Homo sapiens: one gene and its partners. The protein of the gene in region 6 purifies or fractionates together with the protein of the main gene of each other region. This does not show direct contact. Each region holds a gene or a part of one and is shown on either strand. Other genes may lie near its edges.

Evidence for each region.
Region 1: the proteins of RBBP8 (region 6) and PHF6 purify together in Homo sapiens (affinity purification with mass spectrometry, with the first as the bait; one study listed by BioGRID). This does not show direct contact.
Region 2: the proteins of RBBP8 (region 6) and PBX3 purify together in Homo sapiens (affinity purification with mass spectrometry, with the first as the bait; one large-scale study listed by BioGRID). This does not show direct contact.
Region 3: the proteins of RBBP8 (region 6) and RSF1 purify together in Homo sapiens (affinity purification with mass spectrometry, with the first as the bait; one study listed by BioGRID). This does not show direct contact.
Region 4: the proteins of RBBP8 (region 6) and ZNF350 purify together in Homo sapiens (affinity purification with western blotting; one study listed by BioGRID). This does not show direct contact.
Region 5: the proteins of RBBP8 (region 6) and CDK5RAP2 purify together in Homo sapiens (co-immunoprecipitation; one large-scale study listed by IntAct). This does not show direct contact.
Region 7: the proteins of RBBP8 (region 6) and ZNF217 purify together in Homo sapiens (affinity purification with mass spectrometry, with the first as the bait; one large-scale study listed by BioGRID). This does not show direct contact.

What each region holds. Positions count from the first base shown.
Region 1 is NC_000023.11:134,411,312-134,414,811, reverse strand, and holds part of PHF6 (PHD finger protein 6), read right to left. Parts: intron 1,325-3,500; coding exon of another isoform or gene 1,322-1,324; coding exon 1,155-1,321; intron 990-1,154; coding exon 846-989; intron 1-845.
Region 2 is NC_000009.12:125,753,873-125,757,372, reverse strand, and holds part of PBX3 (pre-B-cell leukemia transcription factor 3), read right to left. Parts: intron 1-3,500. UniProt on the Homo sapiens protein: Transcriptional activator that binds the sequence 5'-ATCAATCAA-3'.
Region 3 is NC_000011.10:77,698,723-77,702,222, reverse strand, and holds part of RSF1 (remodeling and spacing factor 1), read left to right. Parts: coding exon 1-1,502; intron 1,503-3,500. UniProt on the Homo sapiens protein: Regulatory subunit of the ATP-dependent RSF-1 and RSF-5 ISWI chromatin-remodeling complexes, which form ordered nucleosome arrays on chromatin and facilitate access to DNA during DNA-templated processes such as DNA replication, transcription, and repair.
Region 4 is NC_000019.10:51,963,840-51,966,840, forward strand, and holds the end of ZNF350 (zinc finger protein 350), read right to left. Parts: intron 2,376-3,001; coding exon 1,015-2,375; 3' UTR 501-1,014; downstream 1-500. UniProt on the Homo sapiens protein: Transcriptional repressor. Binds to a specific sequence, 5'-GGGxxxCAGxxxTTT-3', within GADD45 intron 3.
Region 5 is NC_000009.12:120,391,772-120,395,167, reverse strand, and holds part of CDK5RAP2 (CDK5 regulatory subunit-associated protein 2), read left to right. Parts: intron 1-529; coding exon 530-656; intron 657-3,396. UniProt on the Homo sapiens protein: Potential regulator of CDK5 activity via its interaction with CDK5R1. Negative regulator of centriole disengagement (licensing) which maintains centriole engagement and cohesion. Involved in regulation of mitotic spindle orientation.
Region 6 is NC_000018.10:22,939,828-22,943,327, reverse strand, and holds part of RBBP8 (DNA endonuclease RBBP8), read right to left. Parts: intron 1-3,500. UniProt on the Homo sapiens protein: Endonuclease that cooperates with the MRE11-RAD50-NBN (MRN) complex in DNA-end resection, the first step of double-strand break (DSB) repair through the homologous recombination (HR) pathway.
Region 7 is NC_000020.11:53,583,840-53,587,339, forward strand, and holds part of ZNF217 (zinc finger protein 217), read right to left. Parts: exon of another isoform or gene 2,913-3,500; intron 1,256-2,912; exon of another isoform or gene 1-1,255.

The DNA of each region.
Region 1 (3,500 bases), on a different chromosome or scaffold from region 6:
GCCAGTGTGGAGCCAAGATTAAATAGCCTGCTTTAAGCAATGAAAATTTCAACAATGTCACTCTATTCTCAACTATTTTACATTTCCACAAAGTTTTAAAAAATAGTTTAAATTGGCAAATTTCAACCATAGATGCAGATTAGAATCACTCGCGTATTTTTTTTTTTCAAACTAGACATATACGAGATCTATTCCACAGGGTGCCTAGATGCACATATTTCGGAAAAAGCTCACCAGGTAAATCTGACATGCACTCTGGTTAAGAATCTCTGACATAAATAATGTAATTTTAAAAACCTTATCAATGGGATGAGTCATTCAATACAATCTAAGTCAAAGATATTTATGTGTACTGTAAGTCAGGCATGGACCTAAGGATGTCAAGATAAAAACTTATTCTTATCTTCAAGGAATTTAAGAGTCTGTTAGGGAAGATAAGTTCATAAATGAATAATTGTAATATAGAGTGTTAAGTACAACAGAGATAATTATTAGGTTATAGTGAAAGTCTAAAATATATTTCATGACATGCTTATAAAGACAAAATTTTTATAGTTATGAAATAATTAATTACAGATTATCCTAACTACAGTAACTATAATTAGAATTACTTCAAATCCTACTAAAACATAAAGGCTATAATTTAACAAAATCTAAACTTAAGATTTGGGATTATAAGATATACTGTTTATAACTCTAAAATACTAATGCTGGTGGGGGGAAATTTTTTGGTTACTAGCTAAATGATTTTTAAAAAAAAAATCATTTGGGCTTTAGATCACAGGGGAAACAAAGAAAAACAAACAACAAAAAAACAAAATTGGGCTTAAAAGAACCATGCTTACCATGCACTTATAATGGGCAGCTGCCTTCTTGGCATTAAATATATGCAGTTTTCCTCGTGCTTCATTTTCTTCCTCCCCTACATGGCAAAATCCACATTTAGGCCTGGTGTCACTAGGGCTGCTTCTGTGTGGAGACCTATCTCTCTGCAAATGTAAAAGAAAAAACGAACTTAAAAAAAATCATGAAAATATGCTATCGGTATTTCAAGCTTACTTAACATTTCAAATGATGAACTTTACCTATAGATAGTTTAAATGAAATATTCATGGTGCAACAAAAGTAAGAATCCAACAGTTTTTTTTACTTACATAGGAACTACTTTCCATTTCATCTGTTCCATGGGAGGATGTGGACCTGGTATCTTCTGACAGCCCTTTAAAATTAGTTTTTCTTGGCCTTCCTTTGCGACTTTTCTTTTTACTTTTAGGTGATGAGGGCTCCAGTTCATGTTCATTAAAACTTTCTTCTAAATCAGCTGCTTAAAAATGAACAAAAACTTTTTATGGACCAATCTCAAAATAAGTATTAGTTCATGGGTCTTTAGGACATATGTTTCTCCTTAGAATGAAACTGTCTCCAGAAATGAGGAGAAATGGTCTGTGGTATGTTCAATAAAGCCACCCAATGTTTCAGATAAATGCAATAAAAATCAAATACAAATAGTTTAGTAAATTAATTTTTAGAGTTTGCTTTTGCATTATTATTTTTTTTTACCATAGGTTTCAAAGAGTTTGTAAAATTAGAACACTTACCTAGAAAATACACTTACTGTAACTTGGAAAACTAAATGAAAATAAAGTAGATATATCTGTGCTATTCAATGTAGTAGCCACTAGCAACATGTGGCCTTAAAAAATTTAAGTCAGTTATAATTAAATAAAATTAAAACTTCAGTTTCTTAGTCACACTGACCGCACTGCAAGAGCTTATTGGCTACATGTGGCTAGTTGCAACTGTATTAGACAGCACATATACAGGACTGTTGCCACTGTCACAGGAAAGTTCTACTGGATAACACTGGTCTAGATTACTCTTCAAACGATCATGAAAACTGAATGAACAAATTCAACAAGGAAGTCATTTACAATTGAACTAATGGATCAAGTAATTAAACAAATATTAAGTACAAAAAGAATTTCTAATACAAGCAGTAAAAAAAGTATGTTGCAAGTTAGTTGCATATGCTTTAATGAATTAAGCAAAACTTACGCAGAAATTTGAGAACTGCATTTCTCAGTAATCTGAAAAGAATTTCTACCATAATGAAAGGTGTTTCATCAGTAGTTTACTATAAATATTTTATTTATTGAAGGCCTCTGTATAAGATAATGTATTAATATTTAGTGTTTAAAAGGGTAATAAAAACCAAATGTTCACTTGCCATAGGCTCAAACTATGGAAAGTTTTAGGCACAGCTCTAATATTTTCGCCATTTTTTCCTTTACCATGTTATTGATTATAATTCTAGAGACTAATTTCTCAATGAGAAAGCATATCAACTCCTATGCTCAGACGTTAATATCTTTCCTACTACTTTGAAGGTTGTTTATTAGAAATGAAAGCACATTTATTATAAGAAAAGGGCAATTCAGTTGGTATACTTGAATATATATATAAATTAAGGGAACTACAAGTATTAGGTTGTTTGCAAAACAGTTAATAACAATTTACATGAGTGCAACTTCACATAGCTCTGGTGGGACTTGAGGGAGTTAAGGGGAAAAGGTAAAAGTTATTGCATAGTGTTTTATAGGCAACAAAATAAATTCACGTGAATAACTTCCTGTGAAGACACAGAAGTCAATTAAAGATGTTTTCTCTCCTTAACACGATAGCAAACTTCATGTCAGAATACACTACTTAATTTAAATATTCAAACTGACAATTTTTAAGACATGGAATTTCACTAAAAGCTGTTAGAATTACTTGCACTTGGCTGGGCGTGGTGGCTCACGCCTGTAATCCCAGCACTTTGGGAGGCCGAGGTGAACAGATCACGAGGTCAGGAGTTCGAGACCAGTCTGGCCAATATGGTGAAACCCCGTCTCTACTAAAAATACAAAAAATTAGCCGGGTGTGGTGGCGCACACCTGTAGTCCCAGCTAATCGGGAGGCTGAGGCAGAAGAATTGCTTGAACCCGGGAGGCGGAGGTTGCAGAGAGCCGAGATTGTGCCACTGCACTCCAGCCTGGGTGACAGAGCAAGATTCCATCTCAAAAAAGAATTACTTGCACTTGCCAAATATTAAAAATTCTCAAAATGAAAAATCATAACTGTTTCAATCATTCTAAGACATCTATGTGTATGTATATATAAAACATTGTTTTATACATATGTATACACATAATATATTCAGTTATCTATTATGAAAATAAGCATCACTAACACCATACATAACACTATTAAATAACATTTAATAGTTGTTTAATAAATAACAATAAACAAATAAGATGTTTAATAAATAACATTATTAAACATCTATAACATTTAATAATGTTATTTATTAAACATCTATAAAAATTACTTAAGAACTGATTCCATTATCAAGCCAACATGATTAGTTTCCCACATGTCATATTTGTTCTAAATATGAAATCATTCCACAAAAATTTTTAACAACTTTAACATCAATAGTAAAAGTCACGAAAGATTCA
Region 2 (3,500 bases), on a different chromosome or scaffold from region 6:
ATCAATTTCCTGCTCTAGTTCCTATTCCAAGTTGAAAATGATATATCTGACTATGAATTCCAACAACCTTCACCTGTAGTTTTTTTTTTAAAAAAAAACAATGGTGGGAGGAGAAAAGAAAGAAAAATGAAACTTGTAAGACCACCTAAGTCAATTCTTCCTCATTTAAGGACACTTGGATAGTAAAGGTAAGATGCACATTTAAGCTTGCCATTTCAAATATATATATTTTTTAATGCAATGATTTCCTCCCCATCAAATGCCATTCAAGAATTTCATAAGTCCTTCCCAATAATTCCTCTATAAATTATTTGCAGGGCTTAGTACATCTGAAAGCCTGTAGAAACCTTTGTTTAAATAATAACATGCAATTTCAAAAGCTTTTTGTTCCCTTTTCAATCAAAAATAACTTCATATGTTTTAAATGAAATTTTGCAAGTAATCAGAGACTAATGAGGATTCACTGATTTAACTAGTTCAGGGAATCAGAGAAGGGAGTGAGAATTTAAAGTAACCAAGTGTTTCATTTAGAAAAGCAGCTAATGTGGTAGGTACACTAAAAGTCGTCTTCACAGCGAAATGTAATCAGGACTTTTGTCTCAGGAGAAACTCATCCTCCTTTCTGTGCACATTCGTAACTCACATTACCATTAACAGGCATCACACATGCACACCGAAGAGATGCCTGCCTTGGTAGTATGCATGCATGGCAGCTGTGGTGACTAAATAATCCACATGGCTCTGAAGAGAAGATATGGTTTACTGGGTCCAGAGTCACAGCTACAGTGGTGGAATTCAGACACTTGAACTAAACCCCAGTAGGAATGCCTTACCCAAACCCTCTTCCTTCTAACCATACCCAGCAAATACAGTTAGGCCAGGATTTTGCAATTCCATCCTCTATGCATGGTTTATAGATAGAAGTTCCATGTTTGAGTAAACCTTAACCTTCTTGTAGGCACAGAAGGTCTGTCTTCCTCCCTTTCCCCACAGCAATCCTAGTATTCATTCATGTATTTCTCCCCAGAATATAAGAAATATCACAAAATAGCTTTATAGAGAAAAATTCAGAGGCCTAGCTTAGGCCACAAAAGTCAACAAAATCTGAATCCAGTATGAAATTCCATCTTCCACACAAAATGTCATCAGTAATCTTACCTATAAGATATATGCTGAAATATAAATTCCACAGGTTGTATAAAGGGCAGTTTAACCATGAATTATAATTGTTACAGCTTTTATGGATTCAAGTCAGAATGTTAATACTCATTTAATATAGTTTTCTGAAGCCCAATTCAACTTCTTCCTTCCTTCCCTAGTGAAGAAAATATCCTTGTGAAGTTCAATTTAGTGACATTGGTGCACAAGCCCATACACAGAAGTTTACACTTCTGAGAAGAGATAAGTGATAAACAGTTCATTAGCCATGTTAATGAAATTATGTTTTAGGAAAAAAAAGACTAGGTGACACAAAAATTTTAGTATATTTTTATACAGAAACATTACAATAAAAACTTTATATTCAGTATCTCCAATTAGGTCAATTAATATTCAGAAAAATCCTGTAACATTTCATTTAAATAATCATAGGAGGGGGAAAAAAGAATCCACCAATGTTCTGGAAGCTTCTCTAGACCTTTCAATCAATTTTATTTATATGCAAAACCAAGAGAAACTCAAAAAAAAAAAAAAAAAAAAAACAAAGCTCCTCCTGATGCTAAAGCTCTCAATTTACTGACAGGCAAATGGCTTCATGCTGCCACTTAATCTCATTTCTTGCATAATGCCCTCTAATTAGCATATCAAAGTGAATTAATACTTCTAGGGCATTAGCAATGGGGAAATCTGCTCCAGGCTCACAATAGCAGTTAAGAGAGAGCCAAGAAATCCTCAAAAACACCACAAACCACTTTGCATTGCAAAACTGTTCAATTTATTTATCCTCTCTCTCTAAACACTTTTACCGCACACTGTTTTACTACTGTTCACCAAACAAAATGATAATTGCCAAAGTTACCAGCATCTGTAATGCCTGTTTAGAATCTTAATTTAGACTGTTGCAGATAATTTCTATATGCAACCATTTGTTCTATTATAAATGTTAATATAGAGACAGTGAAAATGTTGACATTCTCAATTAGTTAATTTGAATTTGAAATAAAATTTTATGGGATTTTAAAATTTATGAATTTTTTAATGTAAAAAGCCACCTGCTGGACTCTGAAGCCTAAGAAATATGCTTTGAAAACTGATGTATCACATAAAAGAAAACAAAACAAACAAAAAATCATTTTGCCATAACATGTTGAGTCTCACAAATAATGGTTTAAACATTGTGAGGACTCATCAGCATTAAAAGGATTACATTGTATACCAAGTCCTCATTAATATGATCACTAAAAAAGAGTTATTGTCTAAACAGCTTAACATTTTTAAAGCACTTAAGTTGAAAGAAGTAGAAAACTTTTAACAATTATTTTTATCCATAAATATTTTTAATTGCTTTCATACTAACCTGTTACTATTACGTAGACAGTTATACAAAAAAAGTTACGCCAATTCAGTTTGATACATTCTATCACACCAATTTTTTTGCTAGATATACACTCAAATTTAGTGCCAAAGTAAACTAGTTACCATTAAAACCTACAAACATATTATACTATGGAATATATCTATGAAAAAATAATACAGAAGAAATTCTTGTTGCAATTCTGCCTACAAAAGGGATAATTAGAATCAAGTGTTGAAGATTAATGAAATTTATTTTTTAATATGTTCTGAGTTTGAAGGCATAAAAAGGTGGTTTATTTTTTCAGTAGCTCATTCAAGAATTACTTATTATTTGCTAAATATAGCACTGTCAACTAGATGTGATAGCAATTTGTCTGATTAACTTCAATAACTTTGTAAAAAATCAGATAGCTAGTTCTGAAAAACTTTTACCAATTTATACTACATAGTGATATAAATTATTTACTCTCTTCATACTTGAAGACTCAAATGGCCTACTGAAGTAGAGCAAATGCTTGAAAAGGTCAACACGGGCTTGAGGGGGAGGTGGTGGTAATGTGTAAGCTTTGTTAGTCAGTTAATACCTAAATCATGCTGATCACACTGATAAATGGCTAAAACACAAGACTGCTGAGAAAACAAAACATTATTCTCATAATGTCAATATTGAACTAATAAATATCTAAAGATGTTCACAAACACGAATAGGGAAAAGATAATCTAAAACCTTATATAACTTGATGTGTTAGTGCTGATGTGTTAAGCATTTATTCTAAATAGATACCTCAGGGTAGAGTACAAAATAAAGTGATGACTGACTTAGGGTGTGGTTCACGAAATGCAGTTTCAATTCTTATAGTCCCACTTCATATAATGTAACTTCATCCTATACCATGCCACTATAAAGTATCAAAATATAAATAATCCAACTAATACGTTAATTTAAATTTGCCTCAGAAGTAACCTTTTACAAAATTTATAAATTG
Region 3 (3,500 bases), on a different chromosome or scaffold from region 6:
CCAAAAGTAGCATGGAGAAGCCAGTGGCACAGGAGCCTGAAAGGATCGAATTTGGTGGCAATATTAAATCTTCTCACGAAATTACTGAGAAATCTACTGAAGAAACTGAGAAACTTAAAAATGACCAGCAGGCCAAGATACCACTAAAAAAACGAGAAATTAAACTGAGTGATGATTTTGACAGTCCAGTCAAGGGACCTTTGTGTAAATCAGTTACTCCAACAAAAGAGTTTTTGAAAGATGAAATAAAACAAGAGGAAGAGACTTGTAAAAGGATCTCTACAATCACTGCTTTGGGTCATGAAGGGAAACAGCTGGTAAATGGAGAAGTTAGTGATGAAAGGGTAGCTCCAAATTTTAAGACAGAACCAATAGAGACAAAGTTTTATGAGACAAAGGAAGAGAGCTATAGCCCCTCTAAGGACAGAAATATCATCACGGAGGGAAATGGAACAGAGTCCTTAAATTCTGTCATAACAAGTATGAAAACAGGTGAGCTTGAGAAAGAAACAGCCCCTTTGAGGAAAGATGCAGATAGTTCAATATCAGTCTTAGAGATCCATAGTCAAAAAGCACAAATAGAGGAACCCGATCCTCCAGAAATGGAAACTTCTCTTGATTCTTCTGAGATGGCAAAAGATCTCTCTTCAAAAACTGCTTTATCTTCCACCGAGTCGTGTACCATGAAAGGTGAAGAGAAGTCTCCCAAAACTAAGAAGGATAAGCGCCCACCAATCCTAGAATGTCTTGAAAAGTTAGAGAAGTCCAAAAAGACTTTTCTTGATAAGGACGCACAAAGATTGAGTCCAATACCAGAAGAAGTTCCAAAGAGTACTCTAGAGTCAGAAAAGCCTGGCTCTCCTGAGGCAGCTGAAACTTCTCCACCATCTAATATCATTGACCACTGTGAGAAACTAGCCTCAGAAAAAGAAGTGGTAGAATGCCAGAGTACAAGTACTGTTGGTGGCCAGTCTGTGAAAAAAGTAGACCTAGAAACCCTAAAAGAGGATTCTGAGTTCACAAAGGTAGAAATGGATAATCTGGACAATGCCCAGACCTCTGGCATAGAGGAGCCTTCTGAGACAAAGGGTTCTATGCAAAAAAGCAAATTCAAATATAAGTTGGTTCCTGAAGAAGAAACCACTGCCTCAGAAAATACAGAGATAACCTCTGAAAGGCAGAAAGAGGGCATCAAATTAACAATCAGGATATCAAGTCGGAAAAAGAAGCCCGATTCTCCCCCCAAAGTTCTAGAACCAGAAAACAAGCAAGAGAAGACAGAAAAGGAAGAGGAGAAAACAAATGTGGGTCGTACTTTAAGAAGATCTCCAAGAATATCTAGACCCACTGCAAAAGTGGCTGAGATCAGAGATCAGAAAGCTGATAAAAAAAGAGGGGAAGGAGAAGATGAGGTGGAAGAAGAGTCAACAGCTTTGCAAAAAACTGACAAAAAGGAAATTTTGAAAAAATCAGAGAAAGATACAAATTCTAAAGTAAGCAAGGTAAAACTTGTCTTAACTTTAATTAAAAATATTTGTCTCTATATATTAATAGGTTTTTTGGTTTTGTCTAAAACTTAGTCATCAAAGACAACTGACAAAGTATCTTTCTTCCTCTGTCTGAGATACCTTTTCAGACTTTATACTCTTACTTATACTCTATACTCTTGTCATCTTTTAACTTTTTTAAGAAATTAAAAGTAGTATAGGAATATATTCTCCTTGTAAACTATTCAAATAATATCCAACCTGTAGAATTATAGAATGAGAATTCCCCATTGCCACTATTAACAGTTTGGGGATAATTGCCACTATTAACAGTGTGGGGTATAGTATCTTTGCAGTCTTTTTTTTTTTTTTTTTTTTTTTTTTTTGTGAGACAGTCTTGCTCTGTCGCCAGGCTGGAGTGCAATGGCACTATCTCGGCTCACTGCAACCTCTGCCTCCCTGGTTCAAGCGATTCTCTTGCCTCAGTCTCCCAAGTAGCTGGGACTACAGGAGCGTGCCACCACACCCAGCTAATTTTTGTATTTTTAATAGAGGTGGGTTTTCGCCATGTTGGCCAGGATGATCTCGATCTCTTGACCTGGTGATCCGTCCACCTCGGCCTCCCAAAGTGCTGGGATTACAGGCGTGAGCCACCGTGCCTGGCCCTCCAGTCCTTTTTCATGCATTTATGTGGATGTTCATAAATATTTACTTATTTAAAAAAGAAATTGGATCAAATATGTTCATTTTTCTGTGAGTTTTTCACTTAAAGTGTCTCTGAACTCTTCATGTCCGTAGATATAGTATCCCTTTTGCTTGTTAATGGCCACACAGTACTCCATAGTGTGGATATACCTCAGTTTATTTAACCACTCACTTACTGATTGACATTTAGGTTGTTTCCAATTTTTCACTATTACAGGCAATGCTGCATTGAAGATCCTTTTGGACATGAGTGAGTATTTCTTTAGAATAGACTCCTAGAATTGGAATTGCTGGGTCAAGGGACATGTATATTTTAAGTTTTGATAGCTACTTCCACATTGCCCTCCAAAAAGGCTCCATTAATATAGCATCTTATTACCAGTGTATGACAGTGCCTGTTTTCCCCATTTTACTCATTAATGTTGGTATTACTCATCATAACTATGACCCTGTTATTTTAAGCAAAATATTTTACAAGTCTTTTGCTAGTCTATGGGAATTTATCATAATCAAAAGTGCTACTTTTCTTTTTAATGTATTTAAACGATCAGATCATTCTTCATTGTAAGTGATCCTGTGTTCCCTGAGATACTGAATTTTTAATGTTTTCTTCTTTTGTTGTTAGACTTATTTTGTTCTTTGCTGACGACCTATAGTGTAGGAATAAACTAAAACACAAGTTAAAAGAGTATAAAACTACGCAATAAAAAGCTGTTAGTCACATTATAAATTTGCTCTCTGAATGTATATATTTTTACATTTGTCAGGATTTTTATATGCAGTTCTGGCTTATTTAAAATTTAAAATTTATCTCTAATACAGGATTTTAAATTTTTACATGAAAATATGTGAGAATATAGTCATCATTCTCTTACAAAGCATTTAAAATGTGCATGACCTTTGACCCAGAATCCTCTTCAAGGAATTTATCCTAACCACAGAGATGTGTGTAAAAATATTTGTAAAGATACAGTACATTGTTGACGAAAGTGAAAAACATGGGAAACAACTACCTAAATGTCTAGTAGAGGATTAGATAAAAACAGTTATGTAATGGCATTTATAGTAATGTTAGGAGAATGTGACTAGGAAAAATATAAGACCAAATGTTCATTATAATTCGGTTTTAAGAAAAAAGTAAACAAAAATGTAGAAAAAATAGTGGAAATATATACCAAAATTTAACCATAGCTATATCTGATGATGAGACTATAATAATTTTCTCCTCTTTTTTTGGTATATTGGCTGAATATTATTATACAATGGACATGTAATCAGGAGATTTTTAAAAGACATTCTTATATCAAA
Region 4 (3,001 bases), on a different chromosome or scaffold from region 6:
CATAACTTTCTGGGATGTTGGAAATAATGACAAAGAGTCCTCATTGTCTGAAAGTTCTGTTCACTCTGCTGTCCAGTTTAGTAGCCTCTACTCACATATACAGCTCTTGAGCAGTGAGGGAACTGAATTTTTAAATTTTGTGTTCAGTTTCTTTAATTCTAAAATTTAAGTAGCTACAAAACTTAGCAGGGAATTTGTAATCTCTTGGAGAGATAAGACACGGGCAAAAACAAACAAACAAAAAGCCCTCCTTTTTGTACTAAGGTGCTTAAGTACCATTAACAGCAGTCCTTCTGCTACTCCTTGAACAATAAATTATCGCGTCCCCTGGACACAGTTACTCCATGTCCATTTCACCTAATGTAGATATTTGCACCGCCTGACTAGATTGCCTGAGTGTAATGATACCACTTAAAATTAACCCCACAAACTCTCCAGGAGACCACAAACTTTTTCTTCTTTGACCTCAGCTCCTGGAACAGGACAAGGTACAAAGGAAATAATTTTAAAATATTTGTTTAATGAAACAAATTGACTAGTTTCACAGATCCCTCTGCATAATACAAAGTTCTGAAAGTTTATGGTCCTGGTTTTCAATTAATCCTCCACACTGGCACTGGTCTAAGGAAACTGAATTGACACATATGTGTCCCACATTCCACCATTACAGTATTAGCCCTTTCCCACCAACTGCCCCTTATGAAGCTTTTCAGTCACTGCAACACTCCCGACACCAATTATCTCATCTGTTTTAAAAATTCACAGTACTTCATTTCCTCCACTTAAAAGTACTTGGGCTTCCTTTACTCATTTAATTGACACAGTCGAGCAATTGCTGTGTATGTGCTTAGGTTAACATCAAATTTGCCTGTGTATCACAGCATACATTTTAATAGGATGAGTTTATCAGGCTATCTCAGCCTTATACATGTTCTCTCAGTGTATGCTTTTCGGCCACATAATGAACTACAAATTTTTGCTCAACCCTTTTCCACATAGATCTGAGTTTTCTTCCTATGGGTTTTCTGTAACATAAAATAAGACATAATTGATCACGGAAGGCACAACCACATTCACTGCATTCACAAGGTTTCTGTCCTGTGCAAATCCTCTGTTATCTCCTGAGGCTGCACATCTGACCACTGGCTGTCCCACAAGGACTACGTTCCTGTTTGCGAGGAGGCCGCTGATGTTTAATGATGTCTGAGGGGCCACAGAAGGCACTTGTGTAGTCGCCCCGTTAGCAGAGTTTTTCTCCTGCATGACATCACTGGTGTGTAATGAGCTGTGCCTCTCTGCAGGAGGATTTTCCACCTTGGCTGCCTCTTGTTTCTCCCTTGTGTGTATTCTCTTATGCTTAACCAGACACGACATATACGCAAACGCTTTCCCACACTCGTTACAGCCATAGGGTCTCTCTCCTGTATGAGTCCTTTGATGGACAATGAGCTTTTGCTTTGTGCTAAAGGCTTTCCCACATTCACTACATTCAAAGGGTTTCTCTCCTGTGTGAATTCTTTGATGTTTAATGAGACCTGATTTCTGAGAACAGGATTTTCCACATTCACTGCACACAAAGGGCGTCTTTCCTGTGTGAAATCTCTGATGTGCTATGAGACACGTCTTCTGAATGAAGCCTTTTCCACATTCATTGCATATATAAGGTTTCTCACCTGTATGAATTCGCTGGTGTACAATGAGATTTCCTTTCTGGATGAAGCCTTTTCCACATTCACTGCATATATAGGGTTTCTCTCCGGTATGTGTTTTCTGATGTATGTTGAGCCGTGATTTCTTGAGAAAGGCTTTGCCACATTCAGGGCATTCATAAGGTTTTTCTCCTGTATGAGTTCGCTGATGTTCAGTAAGCATGAACTTTCTGGAGAAGGCTTTCTCACATAGACTACATCTGTGGGGTTTCTCTCCTGTATGCATTACCTGGTGATCAGTTAGCCAAGACTTCTTGATGAAGGCTTTCCCACATTCACTGCACACATGATGCTTCTCTAATTTTCGTGTTTTCTGATGCTTGGGACTGATGAATTGGGACTTAGTGCTGATGAGTTTTTGACTTGCAGGGAATTTAATTGCAGTATGAAGTCGTTCATGGTTAGCATGAAGAAAGGAGTCCCCATTTCCAGTAAACTCAACAGAGTTCTTTATTTCATAGCCTTTGCTCTGGTTAACTAAAGTTAAATTGGATTTCAAACTTTTTCCACGTAAGTCAAATATATCATGATTTTGCCCTAACAGAAACTGACTTTTGCTGCAATGAACAATATTTTCAAATGCATCATGTTCATGACATGGTTTCCTTCTGTTCACCAGGCTTTCACTCTGCAAGCGCTCCAGCACATGATCAACTTTCCATATGTCTAGAAAGAAAAGAACAAAGATTTCTATCATTTAGATTTGGGGTAAAAGTTTGTTGTGGTTTTTTTGTTTTTTTTGTTTTTTTTTTTAAGATGGAGTTTTACTCCGTTGTCCAGGCTGGAGTGCAATGCTGCGATCTCAGCTCACTGCAACCTCTGCTTCCCGGGTTCAAGGGATTCTCCTGCCTCAGCCTCCCAAGTTGCTGGGATTACAGGTGCCTGCTACCATGCCCGGCTAATTTTTGTAGTTTTACTACAGACGGGGTCTCACCATGTTGGCCAGGCTGGTCTCGAACTCCTGACCTCAGGTGAGCCATTGTGCTCAGCCAAAGTATTTTTTGTTTTGTTTTGTTTTTGGGAGACGGAGTCTCACTCTGTCGCCCAGGCTGGAGTGCAGTGGTACAATCCCGGCTCACAGCCAAAGTATTTTTTGTTGTTTTTTTTTTGTTTTTTGGGGACGGAGTCTCACTCTGTAGCCCAGGCTGGAGTGCAGTGACATGATCCCGGCTCACTGCAACCTCCACCTCCTGAGTTCAAGCGATTCTCCTGCCTCAGCCTCCCGAGTAGCTGGGATTACAGGCATGCACCACCGCACCCAGCTAATTCTGTATATTTAGTAGAGACGGCGT
Region 5 (3,396 bases), on a different chromosome or scaffold from region 6:
TCTTTTGTCACTAACTGTGATCATTTTTTGATATCAATGCATAGAGCTCTACAACGTCATTTTTAATAGTTGCTAAATTATTGTATTATATGTAAGTACCATAATTTATCCAGATCTATACTGAAATCAGGTTATTTTTTCCTACCATGAACAATGCTGAGACGAACATCCTTGTACATAGGCATCTTCTTGTGCTTATGTTATTATTCCTTGGGGGAAATGCCAGCGTGTAGAATTGCTGGGGCAAAGAGTTAAGCGCATCTCAGTTTGGTAGATCTTGCCAGGGCGTTCTCACTGGGCCATGCCATCCCGCACTTCCACCAGAGGTCACGAGGTGCTTTCCCCTTACCCTCAATGAGTTTTGTCCAATTTTGCCTTTTCCTGGTTGTCAGGAAAAGGCTTCTAGTTTCCATTCAAATATTTTTGCTAGTGAGGTTGAGCATCATCTTTTTATATGGCTTTGTAATTCTTCCTGTGTAACATGATGTTTATGTTCTTTGTTCATTTTTCTAATTTCTCTTCTCTTTAGATTGGAGAAATGAAGGCAGAGGTCACCAAACTACATAAAAAATTGTTTGAACAAGAAAAGAAGTTGCAAAACACCATGAAGCTTTTGCAGCTGAGCAAGCGCCAGGAAAAAGTCATCTTTGATCAATGTGAGTGAGTGTGGGGGTGGCCGCTATGCCTGACCACTTCCTGCCTCCGAGGGCTCCCAGTTCTGCCCTGGATTACCCACTTTGGAGCCCAGATGGTTTGTAATCATGCCTCCTATCTGTGGGCTTCTTTTCATACTCCATCCTTTCTGACTCACATAGACAAATGTATTCACTTAACACACCTTTGTAGAGCGGCCTTTTGGTGTCAGGGACTGTCGTCTCACTGGGAGACAGTCGTGTGGCATGTGCAGTGATGGGAACATGCAGAGCACTGGGGTGGGAGTTGGGTGGCCGTCACTCTGTCCCGGCAAGGTGGGCGTCTTAGACAAAGTGACCACCTCGCTGAGTGTGAAATGAAAGCAGACGTCGTCACATGGAGCGGGGAGTGGCAGTCCCTCAGGGAAGAGCATGGACAGAGGCACAAAGGCAGGAAATAAGTTTTTGTATGTGAGAAACCAAAACCAGTCCCTGTGGGGTAAAGGCTGCAAACAGTGAATTAAGGTGGGAGGGATTGGGGGTCAGGGAGTACTTCATGAAAGACTGTAGGTGGCAGGCTCAGGGCAGAGGATTGGCCTGTCACATCTGTGTGCAAGAATGGCTCGCTGGTGGCTGCTCCACCAGTGAGGGGGAGGCTGACTCACTAGTCAGACAGGAAAGGTGGCTAGGACGCTGGGGATCCAGAGGAGGGCATGGATTTGAGAAATACTTCTCAAGGCAGATGCCGAGACTCAGGGTTGGTGAGGTTAAGTAACTTTTGTAAGGTCAGTCCCAGTTCTGATCTAGCCACTTTGGAGATTGTTTGGGAGCAGCTCTGTCTCCTGGTTTAAACCCTCAGCACTCCCTCCCGCTGCATTTAGAGGAGCAGGCGGTAGCTGAGTTTCCATTAGTGCCTGTTGGCAACATGGCCCTGGCCAAGCCTGCGCTGTCTGTGTGTCAGTTTCCCTGTCTTAAGAGAACTGCTGACTGCAGCACTTTTTCTCTGGAGGTGCCAGCCTGCCTTGTGCGGCTCTCCTGTCAAAGTCCAACATTTCTGGGGCATTTCTGAGAAGCACAGGACAGAGATTATTGCCAAGTAGGAGTTCTCCTTAGCCACCCCTGGGAACCTTCTGAAAATAGACTCTGTGAGACTGCCAGTGTTTGGACTGCAAAAGAGAGGAGCGCAGCCACTGAGCAGGCACTGAGTTCCTGTTCTTTGCCCCTTACGCCAGGTCCTGGGGACAGAGATGAACGAGACAGTCTTTGCCAGTGAGGGTCGTGGGCTTAATAGGGGAGACACAGAGCTTAGCTGCAGGACGATGTGCTGAGTGCATCCTAGGAGGCCTGAGAGGTGGTTCAAGACTGACTGGGTCTTGAAGAATGACTAGGAATTTGTCAGCGAAGGGGCAGGAATAGGATTCTGGCAGATGGCCCTGTGGACTTGCTGGTGTGCTCCCAGGGGTGAGAGAGAACTGAGTGCTCAGGGACATGCTTAGGACGTGCAAAGGGTTTTCCTCTGAGAGATGAGTGAGAGGGAGAAGCAGGAACCAGGTTGCAAGGAGCCTTGTGGACAGGACTCCAGGACGAGCAGCAGGGACCGGCGGGGTCCATGCGTGTATTACAAGATCCCATGGCTGAGCTTGGAGGGGCCAGGAGGCCGGGAAGACCTCTTTGGGGGCTGCAGCAGTCCCCCAGGTGGGCAGTGGGTCAGGACTGTGGGGGAGAAGGGATGGTTTTGAAAGATTGTAAGGAGGTCAACCTGGCAGAGTGGTGGATGTCTGTGGGGTTCTGGTTGAGGGTTTCGTGTCACTCGTAGAGAAAAAGAGCACTGAGGGGAACCTGGAGAGAGACAGTGCCAGCTGTGGTCCTGTTAAGGCAGCTGTGGAATATTTAGGTTAGACTCTTGGAGCAGCAGTGGGGTGGGGAGCAATGCTCTGCATAGGTCTAGAGAAAGGCAGAACTCTCTGCATTGGCATCTCTCCTCCTCAGCAGCCTTTGGCCCTGAACAGTCACAGGGCAGGTAGCTAACCCTATTGACAGGTGAGAAAATTGCAGAAGTAGGTTTCGATGGGTTGAGTACTGTGGTCGGTCAAAAGGACAGAACTAGAACCCAGATCCCCTGTGTCCTAGGTCAGAGAACATGGAATTATTGATTGAGCACAGTTCAGATCTCCATTCTCCTATGTGACCTGCATTAGACTAGAACCCTAAGCTTTCGATTCCTCATCTCTAACTGGAGACGTGAGTTCCAAAGGACTCAGACTAACTAGTTGGTCCCGGGTTCAATAGCAACTTTATAAAAAGCACCCCAGTTTTCTCATCTGTAAAATAAGGATGATAACGCTACCTAAACTGTATTGTACTTAGCACAGTCTCGGGGGCAGAGGAGATGCTCAACCAGTCCCTCCTCTTTCTTTCCATTAGGCCAGACCAAATCCTATGCATGGAGGTGGCAAATCATTCATAGTAAGAAGAGCCGCAAATGTCTCATAGCACTTCCCCTCCTGAGCTGGTATTGTCCATCTCCATATCTCCTAGGCCTGGCACAGAGCAGGCTCCGCCAGAGCAGGGTGAGGGGCTTGCTCCAGGCAGCATAGCTGGTGGCTGACCCGGGCCTGCAACTCCTCCTTTGCCAGGCTCTGCAGCTCATCCCAAGGAGTCAGGTCCTTGGAAATTCTCCAAGCCCTGCGGACTTCACAGACCTGCTCTGGGTCTAAAGGGACTAGGAGAAAGTTGGCATAGCACCTCCTCTTCCTCCGTCCCC
Region 6 (3,500 bases):
AGCTGGGACCACAGGCACACACCACCATGCCTAGCTAATTAAAAAAATGTTTTTTGTAGAGACAGGGTCTCGCTTTGTTGTCCAGGCTGGTCTCAGACTCCCGGACTCAAGTAATCCTCCTGCCTTGGCCTCCCAAGTGTGTGCCACTGTGCCCAGCCTGACAGCATTCTTAATAATGAGTGGGACAATTCCTTTCACTGTTAATTTGTGCAGTCTTAAGATAATGTTCTCTTTTTAGAATTTTTGATTCTATGTATAGAAAATAAATGGAGCAATTAAAAAATGAATCAAGAAATATTTATCCTGTCCTATTAGAGCCCCCAAACTTTCCCATTTCTTCAAGGTGTTTCAACTTTGCCTCACAAAACCTACCTAGTTTTCTTTGAAACTGATTACCATATTTACTAGACACAGAAAATATATTAGCTAGATGTTAATAGCAGACGCTGGCATAGGCAAAAGATCATTTATTAAAATAGTGGTATTCTGAAAATAAATATTTTAAATTCTATTTTATTATTTGTGCTTTTGATAATAAACTTGATACTGAAAAAGATTTTTAAAGGCAATAAAATTTTGTACCCAAATAAATATGCTTTAAAACTTTTGAAATTTAAAGAATTCTGAAGTTTCCATTAAATTCTGTGAGTTCGGAATTTAAAGCATAAACACTGTATATCATCAGTAACAATCTGTGACACTGATACTAGCAGCATTTGTCACAAAAGGAACATATCATGAAATGATACAATCATGAAAGGATAAAATTATCTTAAAGGATATAAAAACTCGGTCATAAATGTCTCCAGAATTTTTCAACAAAAATGGTCTGGTTTGCATATTGCTAGTCTCCAACAGAAATTAGAGCATTTTGTCTATTCTTGCCTAGTTTTAAAAGACATGGATGCAGTTTATTATATTGTTGTGATCAGTGCACATACTGTCATATTTTGCTATCATTTTATTATGTTTTGGCAAAAGAGGCAAAAATAATTCTAAACACGTGTAGCAGAGCATTCAGATTCAAGCAAGTTCCTATGGGTACATTTCTGTAGCTAAGTAAAAACTATATATCTCAAATATTACCATTCCCAACATTTCTCTTTTATTTTTTACTGACATGAAGCTTTAAAAGTCATGAGTCAATTTTGATTCCTATATATACCTTAAAACCTGCAAAGTCCAGACAAGTCCATGTTTGATGTCTTTCAAACAGCTTCTTACACTGGTTTCTACAAATGGATTCCCCACCTCCTTAAAAAAATTAAGTTCCCTTCAGGCATGTCTTTGATGTTATCATATAGAGACTCTAATTTTATATGGAACTATGTGGAACATATTGACGAAGGCATGGCCCAAACCAAAATGTTTTAAAATGACATATCTACTTAAAAAATAGTACTTATTCATTTAATACCTTTAAGAATCCATAAGTTATTTGAAATTGGGAAAGTGGCATGATCAATATAACGTACCAAAGATTATCTTCTCTTATGAGCTCATATATCCAATACCTAATATTCATAAAACACATGGACCTTATCATATACACCAACAATTACTGTATTCCTCCCTTAAAGTTATTCAGAGTATAGAAACTTTTGTGGGAATGTGATTAGAACATAACCATGAGGAGTACACTTTAAAGGAATTATCTACTACATAATATTTGCAAGCTTTATATATTCTATAATTTGATAAATATGGCATATTGTTCCTATTAAAGAGTATACCATTTGTTTCTTGATGCTTCCTCACTGTAAAATAGGGATTTCATGAAGATCCTGTAACACCAAAGAATAGGAAGAAGAAATCTGTCAAATATTTTATTTCTATTAAATTAATAGCTTATAAATAGCCAGGCACAGTGGCTCCTGCCTGTAATCCTAGCACTTTGGGAGGCCGAGATGGGCGGCTTGCTTGAGGTCAGCAATTCAAGACCAGCCTGGCCAACATGGTGAAACCTCATCTCTACTAAAAATACAAAAATTAGCCAGGAGTGGTGGTGCGTGCCTGTAGTCCCAGCTACTTGCGGGGCTGAGCCAGGAGAACTGCTTCAACCTGGGAGGCAGAGGTTGCAGTGAGCTGCGATCATGCCACTGCACTCCAGCCTGGGTGACAGAGTGAGACTCTGTTTCAAAACATAAAAAACAAAAATAGAAATCAAGAGTTTCAAGAAAGTTGCAGAATATAAAATCAACTCACTAAAACCAGTTGTATTTCTATACACTAACAATGAACAATCTGAAAAGCAAATTAAAAAAACAATTCTATTTACAGTAGCATCAAAAGAATAAAATACTTAAGAATACATTTCACCAAGGAGACAAAAAACTTGTACAATGACAATCAGAAAATGTTGCTGAAAGAAATTATAGAATGACCAGGTGTGGTGGCTCACACCTGTAATCCTAGCACTTTTGGAGGCCAATGAGGTCAGAGGACTGCTTGAGCCCAGGAGTTGAGACTAGCCTGGGCAACAAAATGAGATCCCTGTCTCTATAAAAAAATAAATTAGCCAGGTTCGGTGGTGCATGCCTGTAGTCCTAGCTACTCTGAAGGTGGAAGCGGAAGGATTGCCTGCACCCTGGAATTTGAGGCTACGGCGAACCATGATTGTGCCACTGCACTCAAGCCTGGGCAATGAGGCAAGACCTCATCTCTAAAAATTAGTAATTAAAAATTAAAAAATCTTAAAAAGAAATATAGACCGGGCGCAGTGGCTCACGCCTGTAATCCCAGCACTTTGGGAGGCTGAGGCGGGCGGATCACGAGGTCGGGAGATCGACACCATCCTGGCTAACACAGTGAAACCCCGTCTCTACTAAAAATACAAAAAATTAGCCGGGCGTGGTGGCGGGTGCTTGTAGTCCCAGCTAGTCAGGAGGCTGAGGCAGGAGAATGGCATGAATCCAGGAGGTGGAGCTTGCAGTGAGCCGAGATCGCGCCACTGCACTCCAGCCTGGGCTACAGAGCAAGACTCTGTCTCAAAAAAAAAAAAAAAAAAGAAATATAGAAGACACTAATAGAAAGGTATCCCGTGTTCATGGACTACAAAACAATATTGTTAAGATGTCAATACTATATAAAGCAATCTACAGATTCAATGCATTACCTATCAAAATCCCAAATCCCAAAATCCCAACATTTTTTGCAGAAATAGAGAAATCTGTCCTAAAGTCAAGGCAAGATGACAATCTCTTCAGCATAGCACATACCATTTTACATAATTTGGATCTATGTACATTTCTAGCATCATATCCTATCCACCTCCCCCAAAACTCCAATCTCCCATTCCATTTCCTCTTAGAACTAAACCTAACTATCCAGAGTTCCTTGAATAAAATCAAGCTCTTATCTGCAAACTTTTGCATGTGCTATTCTCTCTACTCAGAAAATTCCCTCCCCTTCCACCATCTTCCTTGCCTGGCTAATTAGACTTAATTATCAAGCCTGGTCTGACATAAACCATGCACAAACCCACTTCCCCATGCAACCAC
Region 7 (3,500 bases), on a different chromosome or scaffold from region 6:
CCACTGTTCAAATCCCAGCTTGCTTTCAACGACTTTCTGCCTTCAACAAGCACTGGGTGGGGCTTCCTAGTCCAAACAACAAATAGGGAAAGACATACACAAAGCTCCTTTGTGAATGTATAGATTTAAAATAAAATCCTCAACAGGGCTGTTTCAACATGGCTTAGTCTTTCATCAGAAAATGGGCCCTCTCATTTTTTTAATCTACCTTTCACATCATGCACTGGCCAGGTGGAAAATTACTTTATTTAGCTCTGCTGCTTCTGGTTTAGAAGCTAATTTTCACTCCTGGAGAAGAATTAACTTCTAAAGCCAATACCCTCTGCCTTTATGGCAAACATTGGATAGGCATTGTTTTTAAATAGTCCCAACTACTTAAAACTTAAGTCAGTTAATTCCACCCAAGAAAACCAAAAGGCATGCAAACTACTCCCAGCAAAGTAACCTTAAAAAACAAAAGCATACTTTACTTTCCTCCCTCTCTCTACTTCCTTAAAGAGCAAGGAAGGCCTGCAGGCTCAGAGAAGCCAAGGAAACATCTCCTCCTTTACACTCCGAAATAGAAATTCTCATACTCCTTGTTATCTTTAGTTTTGAATAAACTAGATCTTTAACATTAAGCTTTTCTAAATAAGACTGCAGATCAAGGATTAGGGTAAAGGAAAGAATGTCCTGAAGTCTTTTCTTTGTTGCTATCACAATGGAGGATCAACACATGGGCTGGTGACCAGCTTGGTGTGATATAATAGAACACTCCAGAGACCCGAGTTCTAGTCACAACCTTCAAGTTGTCACTGCCACATACCACATCTTTCTATTATCTATTTAACGCAGTTGGTTAAACTATAGGATGGCCTTTACAGTTCCAATATTCTGTGGTTCTGGGGATAGAGCTACACATTGAAAAGAATATTCAATTACTCTGCTAATCAGAATGTGAAGTGACTTAGGTTTCTATACATAGAAGCTTAAGTTTCATTTGCTTATTCAACAAGTATTTACTGAATGCTAGCGTCCCAGGCAAGGTTTTAACTGAATAACAGCACATACCCTAGAAAAACAGTTATCAAATTCTGACAACGCTGTTTTCCCTGGCCAAGAACAAAGACTCATTTATTTGAGGTCCTTCCTACTTTTAGATGCTAAAATACGCTTATTTTTTAAAAAATCAAATAGTGGCAATAGGCAATAGTGGAGTTTTTTGGTTTTTTTTTTAATGTCCTTATTTAGCAAAATCAAAGTTCAGTGAGAATTTGAAAAAAAAAAAAAAAAAAAAAAACTAAGTTAGTCCCTATGTCAGCTCTCAACATTATTACTGTATTTTAGAAACTTGACTAATACGTGAAACTGTAATTTTGGGGAACTCCACTTCTCTACTGACATCCTTTAGAAAAAGAGACACCAGCTCTACAGTCTCGGGATTAGAAATATGATGTGAGGACGGGTATAGTGGCTCACACCTATACTCCCAATGCTTTGGGAAGCCGAAGTGGGTGGATCACATGAGGCCAGGAGTTGGAGACCAGCCTGGCCAACATGGTGAAACCCCTTATCTGCTAAAAATACAAAAATTAGCTGGGCATGGTAATACACACCTGTAATCCCAGCTATTTGGGAATCACTTGAACCCAGGAGGTGGAGGTTGCAGTGAGCCAAGATCGCACCACTGGTCCAGCCTGGGCAACAGAGCAAGTCTCCCCTCTCCGCCCAAAAAAATAAGAAATATGATGGAGTGTTATTTCCCACTCAGGGAAACAGCATAACTTAGTTACTGAAAATATTTATTAATAGAAAGATGTTTTGGTTCCAATTCTCAATTATCTGGGTTAAAGAAGTTACCATCACTCTCCACACAAGACCTTGTAGGATTATTTCACTGCGGTGAAGGACAATGAAGGAGGTTCAGTGGGAAACGATCTTAGGACAGAGGAAGCTTCCACTTTGCCTGGGAGGGTGAACAGCCTGGGAGACCTGGAGATGAGGGCAGGCATTCTAGGCCAAGGGGTCTTCTTGTGTGGTCAGATGGGGAAGGAAACCCTCCTGGCAAAACAGCAGAATTCTTTCTCCAGGAAAGCTTCTGAGACTGACTCTAATAGTCAATTGTGACCAACTGTCCTAGGCTCCCAGGGCCACAGCAATCCTTAGGCACCCCAAATGTGCCATCCCTGACTACCCAGCACACCCTACCCCCCCAAAGTATTGTGACAGCTCAAGGATGACTTCCTCTGAAAACCTCTGTCCAGATCTAAAACCATCCTGTTTGTTTGCTTGTAACTGTCTTTTTCTAAAAGTAACACCTCAGGATGGAGACTGTTGCCTTGTCCACTGCTGCCCCCAATGCCTGGAACAAGGTGCCTGACACAGGATTAGGCACTCGACACATAGCTGGTGAATAAATGTCACGGAATTAGCACACGTGTAGAATCAGTACACACGTTTGGCCACAGTCACTAACCGTAACTGATCAGAAATTAAAATTAACTTGCATGTTCATCAAAACTTCTACATGGCTATCAGCGACTGCCATCTAATTGCCATTCTGCAACTTCAAGAGTACAATTTCAAGAGCGTAATAAAAAAAATCGTATTTAATCACACCATAAAGTTGATCAGCACAAGCAAAAAAAAAACTGCACTATTTGGATTTATACTCACTCTCCTTATGACCCTCCAAAACAAAAATGCTGGGCATCCTAGGGCTATCTCTGACAGCAAATGCCTTCAGCTCTTGACTTAGAAACTGCTAACACACTAGACAAAACACTTCCTTAAACTCTAAGACAATGAATAATACTTTAAACCAGGTTTACATCCCTTAAAACCAATTTGCTCATCAGTAATCGTTAAAGTGGTTGTAACAATAAAGACGTTAATAACAGAATACAGCAAAATAGAAATTCTAATCTACTAACAGCAAATCACCGTTCCAATTGAATGGGGTGTGTGCACAAACACAAGCCTTCCCAGAAGCCTCCAGCTCTCCACACTCCTGCACACAGAAGGCAGCAGTAAACCGATGGCACTGCTGATAAAGTAAATTGTCTTTCTTGACAAAGAACTGGAGGAGAAAAGCAGGATATTATAATCCAACACTATAATCTAAATGCTTCTAGCTTGCAAGAAAGTGAGCGTTATGAACACGCTAAGCTTACTGAAAAGTACTTCACAAAAATGTTTTCCAATGTTTAAAAACATTTTAAAATCTTTACTCAGGTAAACGACAGAACTTAACTCATATACCCCCTAACACCTAAGGCAAGTGGGCTATTGAGTATAGCCATATTTTGAAAGAAACTTCTATTGGGATTATTTCAGTAGATACTTTTAAAATTTACCAGAGCGTAATCTTTGAAATCCAGTAGGAACCATATTGCTAGAAAAGGCTGGAATAGAAGTGTGATGTTCTTTAGGTCACTAATTACACACTGATTTGTGACTAAAGCTACCATGAATTCTACCACTACCTGTAGATCTTGAAATCAGCAAATAGGACACATTCT